Linked DNA regions of Homo sapiens: regions 2, 3 and 4 are each linked to region 1. Evidence: fine-mapped expression QTL. A gene starts in region 1. Each other region holds a variant in brackets. All regions are shown on one strand. Distances are between the middles of the regions. Region 1 holds the start of HPS6 (HPS6 biogenesis of lysosomal organelles complex 2 subunit 3). Region 2 overlaps FBXW4 (F-box and WD repeat domain containing 4). Region 3 overlaps ARMH3 (armadillo like helical domain containing 3). Region 4 overlaps OGA (O-GlcNAcase).

Region 1 (2,745 bases):
CTGCAGGGTGCCCACAGCCCGCGTACCACCGTGGGACTGCAATAGGCTCACAGTGCCCCCGAAGTCAAGCAACAGCAGGCCCTGGGGAGTTGGGGCCCAGGTGTGTACAGCCAGTGGCTCCCTGGGGGACAGCAACCCAGGAAGGCCTCGGAGCAGGGTCCGGAAGTCCCATGTGTCCCCTCGTCCAGGATTCAGACTCTTACTGTAGGAGAGACCAAGCCGTGGGGCAGCCACCATCACTTTGCCCTTGCCTGGGCTCCAGATGAGTAGAACGTGGGCCACGCCAGGCCAGGTGGTGGCAGTGGGCACCAGGAAGAGTTGTCTGCAGGAGGCCAGCAGCCCGAAGGCAGGGCAGTGGTGCAGCAGGACGTGTGTGCGGCCCAGGCTGGTGCTAGCTTCCCCGCTGGGCTCCAGAGTCCGGACGCACACACAGTGGCTGAAAGCGGCTGCTGGCGACCCTGACGGGCCCTCGGCCCGGGCCTGCCGCTCCTCGCACCACACCAGGCGGCCTCGGAGCGCCGCCACTGCCACAACGCGGGCTCCCCCGCCCGGACACAGCTCGGTGCTCTGCAGCGGCCGCCAGCCAGGCCCCACGCCCGCGCCCCACACCTCGGCCAGGCCACTCTCCCACACCAGCACCAGCGCCGGCCGCGCTGGCCACGGCAGGAAGAAGGCGTCCAGCGGGGAGGGCTGGCCGGCCGGCCAGGCCCGCTCTAGCTCCGCGCCGGGCCCTCGCGACGCGACTAGCAGCTGTGGGGCTACCGCCCCAGGGGGTCGCAGGAGCAGCAAGTGGCGGCCGTCCGGACTGCCACGGACTCGGACCGCTGAGTCCCCGGCCACCAGCTCCCGGAGCCGCGCCGCGCCGCCGAAGGCGCTCAGGTCCGAGAGCAGCCGCAGAGTCCCCGAGCGCTTCATGGCGCCGCTGCGCGGGAGCGCGCCCAGGCTTTGCCCAGGTCCAGCCGCCCAGCAGGGCGAGGCCCGATTCTCGGGGGAGCGGAGCAGGGCCAAGACTTCCGTCTCCCGTGGATGAGGTGAGCAGAGGCCGGGCCGAGCGTCGACTCCGCCCCGCCCGGCCGGCTCCGGGATGCCTCCCGCAGTCGCTGGGCCGACACTACACGCCCGCCGGGGGAGGAGCCACGGGAGCGCCCCAGGGGCTCAGCGCCTGGACCGCGCCCGCCCGGGCACGCTCTCGGCGCAGGGGGAGGCCCTTCCCCAGACCCCAGGACGCCGCCCAGTGGCCCGGAGTCCCACGCAGGAATAGGGATTCCAGCCCCCTGAGCCCCTCTCCCAAGAATTTCACCCCAATTTACTCATTCAGGAAATTTTCGTTGAGCACATGCTTTGTGCCAGGCTCTGAGTAGACAGCCCTAAACAAAATAGAAAACCTCAACCTCATGGAGATGACAATCTAGTGGAAATAGTAAACATGGCTGGGCGCGGTGGCTCACGCCTATAATCTTAGCACTTTGGGAGGCTGAGGTGGGAGGATTGCTTGAGGCCAGGCGTTCGAGACCAGCCTGAGCAACATAGGCAGACCTTGTCTCTATAAAAATTTTAAAAAGACAGAAAGAAAGAAAGAGAGAGAGAGAGAAGGAAGGAAGGAAAGAAAACCACTTCCATATCACTATGTGACAGCCTTCTCTATCCCCTAGTCCCTTTTACAGATAAGGAGGATGAAGCACAGAGAGATTACGTAACTTAACTAAGATCAAGCAGGTATTAAGTGGTGGAGGTGGGATTTCAACCACAGGCACTCTGGCTCCAGAGTCAGTGCAACAAATCACTTTATCATATCAACAACTCATCACCCAAACCAAAACAGAGAAACATAATTTAGAAGCACTGAGCCTGTGTACCGACTCTTCAGTAACACCTACAAATTTGTATGCAGGGGTCCTTCCACCCCTTGACTGCCTTTTCAGGTGAGCAGTTTTCCTCCTCTCTCCAAGGCCAATCCCTCTTTATGAGCCCTGCCTCTCCTCCCCGGCCCCTACCTTCCTTGAGAACTTGCATCCATTTCTGTTTCACTGCCCTCATTCCGTCCTCAGCATAGAAATACCCTGTCATCTCTCCTGTCTTGGAATTCGTTCTTTCATCCTCATCTCCCCACTTCCACCTCCATCACTCCCTCCCCTTTTCCTTTCTCAGTCAATTTTCTTGCAAGGATGCTACATTTGCCACCTCCACTTTCTTTCCTTCTATCCTCAACCCACTACTTCCCTGAAGTAGCTTTTGCTGAGGTCTTCAAGGACATTTTTATTTGACAGCCTTCTCATTGAAAGTCCCTCCTGTGGTTTGCACTGCATCTTTCCTGGCTGGTTTTCCTTTCCTTTTATTTTATTTTATTTTTTTATTTTTATTTTTAGATAGCACTGCCTTCAGAGTTTTATTTGCCTTTGGTTCATCTTCCTCCATCCTTTATTGATTGATTGATTGAGATAGAGTCTCACTCTGTCGCCCACGTTTGAGTGAAGTGGCACCATCTTGGCTCAGTGCAACCTCTGCCTCCTGGGTTCAAGCGATTCTCCTGCCCAGCCTCCCGAGTAGCTGGGATTAGAGGCACCCACCACCACGCCCACCTAATTTTTGTATTTTCAGTAGAGACAGGGTTTCACCTTGCTGGCCGGGATGGTCTTGATCTCTTGACCTCGTGATCCACATGCCTTGGCCTCCCAAAGTGCTGGGATTACAGGCATGAGCCACCGTGCCTGGCCTATTTATTTATTTATTGAGACAGAGTCTTGC
Region 2 (2,500 bases), 420 kb after region 1:
TTTCCATAAATAAGCTTTGGTTTCCTCGTACCTAATTTCTGATTTACAACTTCAAATGTCTTTCTGATCTGGGGCCAGGTTCATTAAAAAAAAAGAGAGTGAGAGGGTTTGGGGGGACACACTTAAGGTGTATGTGTATTGTTTTGTTTTTTTTTGAGAAAAAATCTTACATGCACTATGTGAATTTTCTGCTTGGTTTCTCTTGTGTTTTGTGTTTGTGTGCACATGTCACTCAGAGGGATTCAGAAGTAGAATATTTGAGTTTGCTCCTATAGTCAGATTTATTTTTCCCTTAGTTTTTGGGTCATTTGTACCAGGTCAGGGTGGAGAAGAGATAAAAGAAGTTGTAACAAAGGAGTTGCTTGGGGTTACAAAGAAAGATCACAGTCAATTGGTTTTGATTGTGGATGTGTATTTTTAAACTTTAATTCTGAAAATTTTCAAAGATAAAGAGAAAAATAGTAAAATTAACCCCTGTGTTTTCCATCACCATCTTAATTATTTTATGCATGCTTTTTTTCCTTTTTTCCCCCTCAAAGATTCTCCTATCCAATTGTGCATGCTTTTAATTAAAATTAGATGAATACGTGGAAAATATATTTAAATTATCTATCTCTTAAATGCCTGGCATTATGGTTGTTGAAAATGGAAGGGTTGGCTGGGCGCGGTGGCTCATGCCTGTAATCCCAGCACTTTGGGAGGCCGAGGTGGGTGGATCACCTGAGGTCAGGAGTTCGACACCAGCCTGGCCAACATGGTGAAACCCCATCTCTACTAAAAATACAAAAATTAGCTGGGTGTGGTGGCGGGTGCCAGTAATCCCAGCTACTCGGGAGGCTGAGGCAGAAGAATTGCTTGAACCTGGGAGGTGGAGGTTGCAGTGAGCCAAGATCACACCATTGTACTCCAGCCTGAGCGACAGAGTGAGACTTGGTCTCAAAAAAGGCGGGGGTGGGGGAAGGAAGAGTCTAGGTTGGGCAGGGTGGCTCATACCTGTAATCCCAACACTTTGGGAGGCCGAGGCAGGTGGATCACTTGAGGCCAGGAGCGTGAGACCAGCCAGGAGTTTGAGACCATTTGAGACCAATACAGCAAAACCCAATCTCTACTTAAAAAAAAAAAAAAAAATTAGCTGGGGATGGTAGCACATGCCTGTAATCCCATCTATTTGGGAGGCTAAGACACAAGAATCGCTTGAACCCAGGAAGCAGAGGTTGCAGTGAGCCAAGATCATGCCACTGCACTCCAGCCTGGGCAACAGAGTGAGACTCTCTCTCTCAAAAAAAAAAAAAAAAAA[AAAAAG/G]AGAAAGAAAGAAAGAAAAGAAAAGAAAATGGAAGGGTTTGAGAGTAAACCAAACTCTGCCCCATTAGAATGAGTCATGTGGTTTCCAGTAGAACATTCAGTCTCATCAGTCCATAAAAAGGGATTCAAGGGACCAAATCTCTGAAGATCAGGGCCTTGTCCCTTGAAGACTAGACTCCCATCCCTCAAGCAGCATCCTTGTTATTTTCTGTTGTCCAGACCATCTCCTCACCCCCTACTGGGAGTGGGCAGGTAGATTTTTCCTGGCACTGTTCTTAGGCATTGGTATAAGAGAACACCTCATCTCCTTTCTGAAGTTCCAGGCCAGCCTGTGTGGTTCTGTTTCATCTGCTCTCCTAGAAGACCTACCAGGTATTAATTTTGTGGTTGAAGTATCTTCTTAGGCCCCAAGGTGTCCAGTAGAGGCCTGGCAAAGCCCTTTGCTCATCTCTCAGTGAGGACATTCAGTTGGGTGAGAAGCCGAGCAGTTACTGAACAGAGGCTCTATATTACTCAGGACACATTTATTGTAAGTGACAGAAACCAAATTCAAATTCACATAAATAAAACAGAATATTTGGCTCATGAAATCCAAGGGAAAAGGTGAAAAACCAAGCCAAAGGCAGAACTGAAATACACCCTTGGGACTAGCTGAACCAGAGGCCATAGTGCTGCCATGGCTTTATCCTTCTGGGGTGCTCATCTCTTTCTTTATGGTTCTTAGCTCCTTCCTTTCTCCAAGCTGACCAGCTTATTCCATGAGGCTGCCAAGTGCTCCTGAGTTTGGCAGCTCATGGCTTAAATCAGAGAGAGTGACTGGCTTCCAAAAATCCCAGGCCAGTTTTGGGTCAGCTGCGCATCTCTTGATTAATTAACTGTGGCCAGGGAGGGAAAGTCATGTAAGAACATGGTGGATCTCTCAGGAATCACATATATGGAGGGAGAATGTGGGCACACAGAACAATAGGTGTCTACTAGTTGGATAAAGGCCAAATGACTCCATGATGTCCAGTCCCAAAGTGTCTATGTGAATGGTGACTGAGCTCAGAGACCTTGGCTACCAACTCTTAAACAAAGTGAAGAGTCTGATAGGAACTGTTGTACAGCCTTTGACCTCCTCCCCCTCACATTATTACTAGTCAGCAAATAAGGATTCCTCCTTTGTAAGCTGTTGATGGTGTCCTTAGCAAAACCCGCC
Region 3 (2,745 bases), 97 kb after region 1:
GAGTTCCTGACTCCTATGCTCAGACACAGATCACTAAGCAACATTTGCTTGCCTGCAGGAAGAAAGGCCCCCTAAGCCCCCAGAACAATCTGTTCAGCTTCACTGTGCTAAGTAACATCCAAAGCATTCACAGCTTTGTGAAAAAGAAATTGTACATGGCCTGACCTTTTAGATATCTACTGGGAAAAATGGAAAACCCAGGGAGTATCACAGCGTTCTGGATCCAGCTGGCTCTCCTATTACTGGCAGAGGCCTATGACTTCTTGGTTAGGTACATCTCAAGACTGGCAATTGAGAGCCTTTCGTTGGAAGCTTGTTTTACTTTTAAGTGTTGCCATACAGGACTGAAATTTTTCAAGAGAAAGGCTGACTCAAGCCATAGATTTATCTGGCAGTTCTTGTGTAGATGTAGCTTTGATAGTTCAGCAGCCCCTCTTGATTTTGAGAAACTATGCTTTGAACTTTTCATTGTGTGCTTCTTTTAGTTTAGTTTCTTTTTTAAACTTTTAATTTTGATGTAATTATAGACTTACAGGAAGTTGCAAAAATAGTATATAGAGTTTCATGTACCCTTCACCCAGCTTCCTCCAGTGATGACATCTTATATAACTCTACAACATTGCTTCTTTTAGTTTTGAAGAGAGTATCCAGGCGGGAAAGAACATAGCAGTAAAAACTAGAGTAGATGGGAAGGGGAATTTTGGCAGCTGCTATTTCTATCTTGTTTTTAAAATTGCTCTTCCTCATTCTGCTAAATTTTCTCTGATTTAGGCAAATATGTCACAAGATATATTCTAGGCTGATGTGCCTAATTAAGACTGCTTTAGCTTCCATATGCAAAAATAGAGAGCCTCTTTTCCTCTATGGGTGATCAATTCCTCTCAAAATTAGAATGTTCTAATTCAGGGGCATTAGAAGGTATCTTTCTGGTTCTATAATGTAGTTATGAAATATTGTCTACAGCAGTATAGAAAGCCCAAGGACTAAAAAGGAATGCCAGGAAGCTTTTTTCCCTTTCAAATCACTACATTTGGCTGAATCCAAAATTTACACTATTTTGAATCTTTCTCTCATCCCCTCAGAAACTTGGCAGAAGCAAAAGATAAGAATCTCTAACAGGTTTAGCCTGTTACAGGGAGAAAAAGATTCCCACGTAAAAGCCCCCAAAAGAGCAAGAAATCACTTTGTTCTTTTCTCTGTGCATGCAGTCACTTCCTATCCAGAAAAATGTCAACTCTCATAGGCCCATGAGCAT[T/A]TTGTCAAGTAAAAGGGACCAGGGAAGGATTAGCTGTGCTTTTGGTTACTCTGCCTATATTAGTTTCAAAGGGACATGTCATGTGGTTTCATAAGGTATCATCCTTCTCTGGATCTCGAGGGAGCAAGACAAGTCTGTTATTGGTCCTACCTCATTTTGGCAAAAAGTAAAGTTATTGGTTCTGTGTCAGATGGCTCCACTGAGACATGGTCTCATTGACTTTTAGATTTCTTAAAGGGTGATTTTGGCTATCACTCCTTTAGGAAACGGTGGGGGGAAAGGAGCAGGTGGTATAGGGCCCTAGAAGAAGGCAGTGGCTCCTGAGCATGCTTGGTTAGAGGCAGCTGCACAGGGACCCTACATTTCCCAAAGTCTAGGATCTGGGAACTTTCATGTGGAAACTCATTTTCATGAAAAAGAAGAGGCTGGGTGCTAATTGTGAGGTTTGCATTGTCTGCAAGAAAATGGGGAATGGAAGATGGTTGAGAACCTTATTTATTTTTTTTTTTTAGCAGATACACATTGACTGCAAGGAAAATGGTAAGGATGGAAGCAGATTTCCGTTTAAAGAAAGGATTTGTTCTATTTCTGACTCATTTAGAGGAATGTGGAGCCTTTAGTCAGTGCAGGCTGTTGACATACTGACTTGTGTGCTGTGTTCACCTGGAGAGGCTGATAGCATACAGCCAGAGCCATTTCATTTTCTTGTTTGATTCTTTGGCCTCTGTGTCAGTGAAGTGCTTAGGCTTGCATCCAGACAGATGCCTGTATTCTGAAAAGCCACCTAGAGTTGTTCCCCGCCCCCTGCTCCCCCCACGACTGAGTCTTGCTCTGTAGCCCAGGCTGGAGTGCCGTGGCGCGATCCCAGCTCACCGTAACCTCTGCCTCCCTGGTTCAAGCAATTCTCCTGCCTCAGCCTCCCGAGTAGCTGGGAATACAGGCGCACACCACCATGCCTGGCTAATTTTTGTATTTTTAGTAGAGACGGGCTTTTACCATGTTGGCCGGGCTGGTCTTGAACTCCTGACCTTGTGATCCACCTACCTTGGCCTCCCAAAGTGTTAGGATTACAGGCTTGAGCCACCGCATCTGGCTGAGTATTTTTAAATTATTCTACTGGCAGGTGTTGGCTTCAGATTCTCTCCTGCACCACTCTGCTGATTGACAGTGAGCCTGCTGATTGCTGGCAATGTCCCTGGGTAATTGGTGATTTTGTCCAGAGATGCTGGAATTGGCTAGAGTTTATAGTGCTTCCAGGGTTTTGGTGGCATGAGCTTGTTACACTAGTGCTATTTTCATCGTGTCCTTTGAGTTTCTTGACTTCTCTCCTAAGCAACTGAGATGGTAATATTATTCTTTTATTAGTCACTGTGAAATTATCCATCTCTCCTAATGAACAGGTTTTGATTTGGGTTCTGTGGTACCTAAACCTAGCTCCATGCCAGGTCACAAAATCAAGTCTGGGTGAGTGTTGTCTTTGCTGTTTGTCT
Region 4 (2,745 bases), 250 kb after region 1:
TGGATTCAAGCAGTTCTCCTGCCCTAGCCTCCCAAGTAACTGGAATTCCAGTCCTGGCCAGGAACTTTTTTTAAAAAAGAGGAGCACGATCATAAAATTAAGTCAGATTCTTTCCTAATCCTATCTCTGATTTGTTTTTAATTGCTTTACCTGTTTATCTCCCCTCACCCTTTTGTTGTTGTTGTTTGAGATGGAGTCTTGCTCTGTAGCCCAGGCTGTAGTGCAGTGACGCAGTCTCGGCTCACTGCAAGTCCGTCTCCCAGGTTCAAGTGATTGTTGTTTCTCAGCCTCCCAAATAGCTGGGATTACAGGCATTTGCCACCATACCTGGCTAATTTTTGTATTTTTAGTAGAGACATGGTTTCACCATGTTGGCCAGGCTGGGTCTGGAACTCCTGACCTCAAGTGATCTACCTGCCTCAGCCTCCCAAAGTGCTGGGATTACAGGCGTGGGTCACCTCACCCGGCCTCCCCTCACCCTTTCTAAAGCAGTTTTACTATCATTCTAGGAAGTAATTGTTACTGTTGGCAGCTTGTATTACATTGCTGCCGTTCCCCATTATAAGATTGAGATCTCTTAAAAAATTGGAATTAAATATATTTGGACTTTATCAACAGTGGAAAGATGATAGATGTTTGTTTTAAAATAACTATCACCTAAGTAACTAATGTCATGGTAGAAAAAATAAAAAAAATTACCTAAGCAAAAATGGAATAAAAGTCACCTTGTAACGTCACCACCCAAAGATTAAAGGAACCTTAGTATTTTATTAAATATCCTTCCGATTTGGTGTATTTTATGCTTTTTACAAAATAGGATTGTATTATATGTTTTGTAACTTGCTTTTCTCAATAAAGCTTACCACATTTTAAAACTGAATATAATTTCATTCTTACTTTGAATCTAGGATTTTATGGAAGACCTTGGGTTATGGAACAGAGAAAAGAACTCTTTAGAAGGTAAATCTTCATTATATGAAGGAGAGAGGAGAACCTTAAACTCTTAACATTTTCTTTTGTTTGAAGAAATACTAACAGTGAATAGCCCAGGTGCATTTTGATGGTTTCTCAATTGCAGAAGTTATTTTACCTTGGTCCCTTTTTTCTTCACCTAGGCCTTTGATTTTCAAACTTTTCCTGGGGAGCTGAATAAGTTTTGGGCTTCACCTTACCCAGAGCTGTTGTGTTTTTTAAGAGTGTTTTGTATGTTGGCATACATTGTAATACTTAATTTTTTTAAATTCCACTGATTACAAAAAGGTTAAAAGCTACTGTCATAGAATATTAGCTTTGTATGAGATGGAGATGCTCCAAGAAGAGGGAAATGGAGATTGACAGCCTATGAATGTTGCCTGTTT[A/T]TACATATGTAATTTTCTTTCTCCTTAAGGCTCCAGAAATGGGAATTAAATACATACTTGTATGCCCCAAAAGATGACTACAAACATAGGATGTTTTGGCGAGAGATGTATTCAGTGGAGGAAGCTGGTAATCTTTTTCTTTTTATCCATAAATTCAAAATCTGTGAAGAAAACGGTTATATTTTAAATGTAGTTGTACAAGAATTTTATGACATTTTATTTTTATTTTGTAGGTAGTTTCCTTTTCTTCTATCTGGTAACTATTCAGTTAGCTGAGATTGAAAGAGTGCTCTGCGCTAGCAAGGTCATGACCATATGTGTGATATCATGGGCGTGCTAGGCTGACTCCATCTGTTCTGTGGTCATAGATTGTGCTGCTTACTTCTGCCAGTGGATTAAACAGTGGGCCACTGGGCAAAGAAGTGCTGGAGCTGGGCTAGGCCCAGGGCAAGGCAAGTGAGGCACGTACCTTGGGTGCAAATTTTAAGGGACCCCCAAAAAGTAATCAACATAAATAATATTTTATGCAATTTTTTTAAAAAACCAAAATTAATGCAGAAATTCATGATGTACACAATGCTAAAATTTTAGGTAAAGACAGGATCAGCACTACTGATTGTTCCTTTTGCTTCAGGCTCTAGTATGGCTTGGCCTTGTCAGCAGTTACTGGTCCTTAAACCCTAGTCCAGGAAAGTGGGAAGCCATTAATAGGCTGTCTTTGGGTTTTGTTTTGTTTTGTTTTGTTTTTTGAGACAGAGTCTTGCTCTGTCCCCCAGGCTGGAGTGCAGTGGTGCGATCTCGGCTAACTGCAAACCTCGCCCTCCCGAGTTCAAGAGATTCTGCTGCCTCAGCCTCCCAAAGTGCTGGGATTACAGGCTTGAGCTCCTGTGCCCGGCCGGCCTGCTATGGGTATACTTAACGTTGAGTTGGTTACATAAAATTGATAAAAAGTAGTATAGCATTGAACCGCCAAATTAGAGAGGTGCTTTTCTTTGGGAACTTGTAAATGGTGAAACATTTTTGTACTTGAAATTAAATGGTATACGCATATAGCTAACAAGATATTTGGTTACAGAGCCCAGCCAAGGCACAGAAGGCTGAAAGTTTTCTTGAATTACAAAGAAGCAATTACAGCTTACCCCATCTCCATCTAGTGTTGTGGTTTACTACTCTATTTAAGTGTGCCTTCAACTTAATTACTTTCTGGTGGTGCTGGTAATGAAACTTAATGTGATCAATAATCAAAATAGAGTAAAAATGACTATCTTGAGATACTACTGAAAATTATTCAAAAATATGTCTTATAGTATATACTAGTAGTAGTTAAGTTGATTTAGGAAAATTGTCAATTGATAATTTTAAAAGGTTAAAATCTATAATTAATGTT

The links. PIP is the estimated chance that this variant, and not a neighbour inherited with it, causes the effect. A credible set is the group of variants that fine-mapping cannot tell apart.
Region 2: its variant is the best candidate, but not a certain one, in a credible set for the expression of HPS6 in whole blood (INTERVAL, PIP 0.85).
Region 3: its variant is the best candidate, but not a certain one, in a credible set for the expression of HPS6 in whole blood (TOPMed, PIP 0.78).
Region 4: its variant is the best candidate, but not a certain one, in a credible set for the expression of HPS6 in whole blood (INTERVAL, PIP 0.59).

The regions. Positions count from the first base shown.
Region 1 is chr10:102,063,645-102,066,389 of GRCh38, reverse strand. It overlaps HPS6 (HPS6 biogenesis of lysosomal organelles complex 2 subunit 3), which reads right to left and starts at 1,041. Exons shown (of 1, transcript NM_024747.6): 1 at 1-1,041. The coding sequence starts at 915. RefSeq lists a silencer at 620-1,289 and an enhancer at 1,500-1,549.
Region 2 is chr10:101,639,287-101,641,786 of GRCh38, reverse strand. All of the region lies in intron 5 of FBXW4 (F-box and WD repeat domain containing 4), which reads left to right. Among named protein-coding and RNA genes, the nearest start is that of MIR3158-2, 39 kb to the right of the region's middle. The variant AAAAAG/G (reference allele first, on the strand shown) is at 1,298.
Region 3 is chr10:101,967,062-101,969,806 of GRCh38, reverse strand. All of the region lies in intron 20 of ARMH3 (armadillo like helical domain containing 3), which reads left to right. Among named protein-coding and RNA genes, the nearest start is that of ARMH3, 88 kb to the left of the region's middle. The variant T/A (reference allele first, on the strand shown) is at 1,256.
Region 4 is chr10:101,811,770-101,814,514 of GRCh38, reverse strand. OGA (O-GlcNAcase) reads left to right here. Exons shown (of 16, transcript NM_012215.5): 2 at 909-960; 3 at 1,388-1,485. Among named protein-coding and RNA genes, the nearest start is that of OGA, 5.3 kb to the left of the region's middle. The variant A/T (reference allele first, on the strand shown) is at 1,359.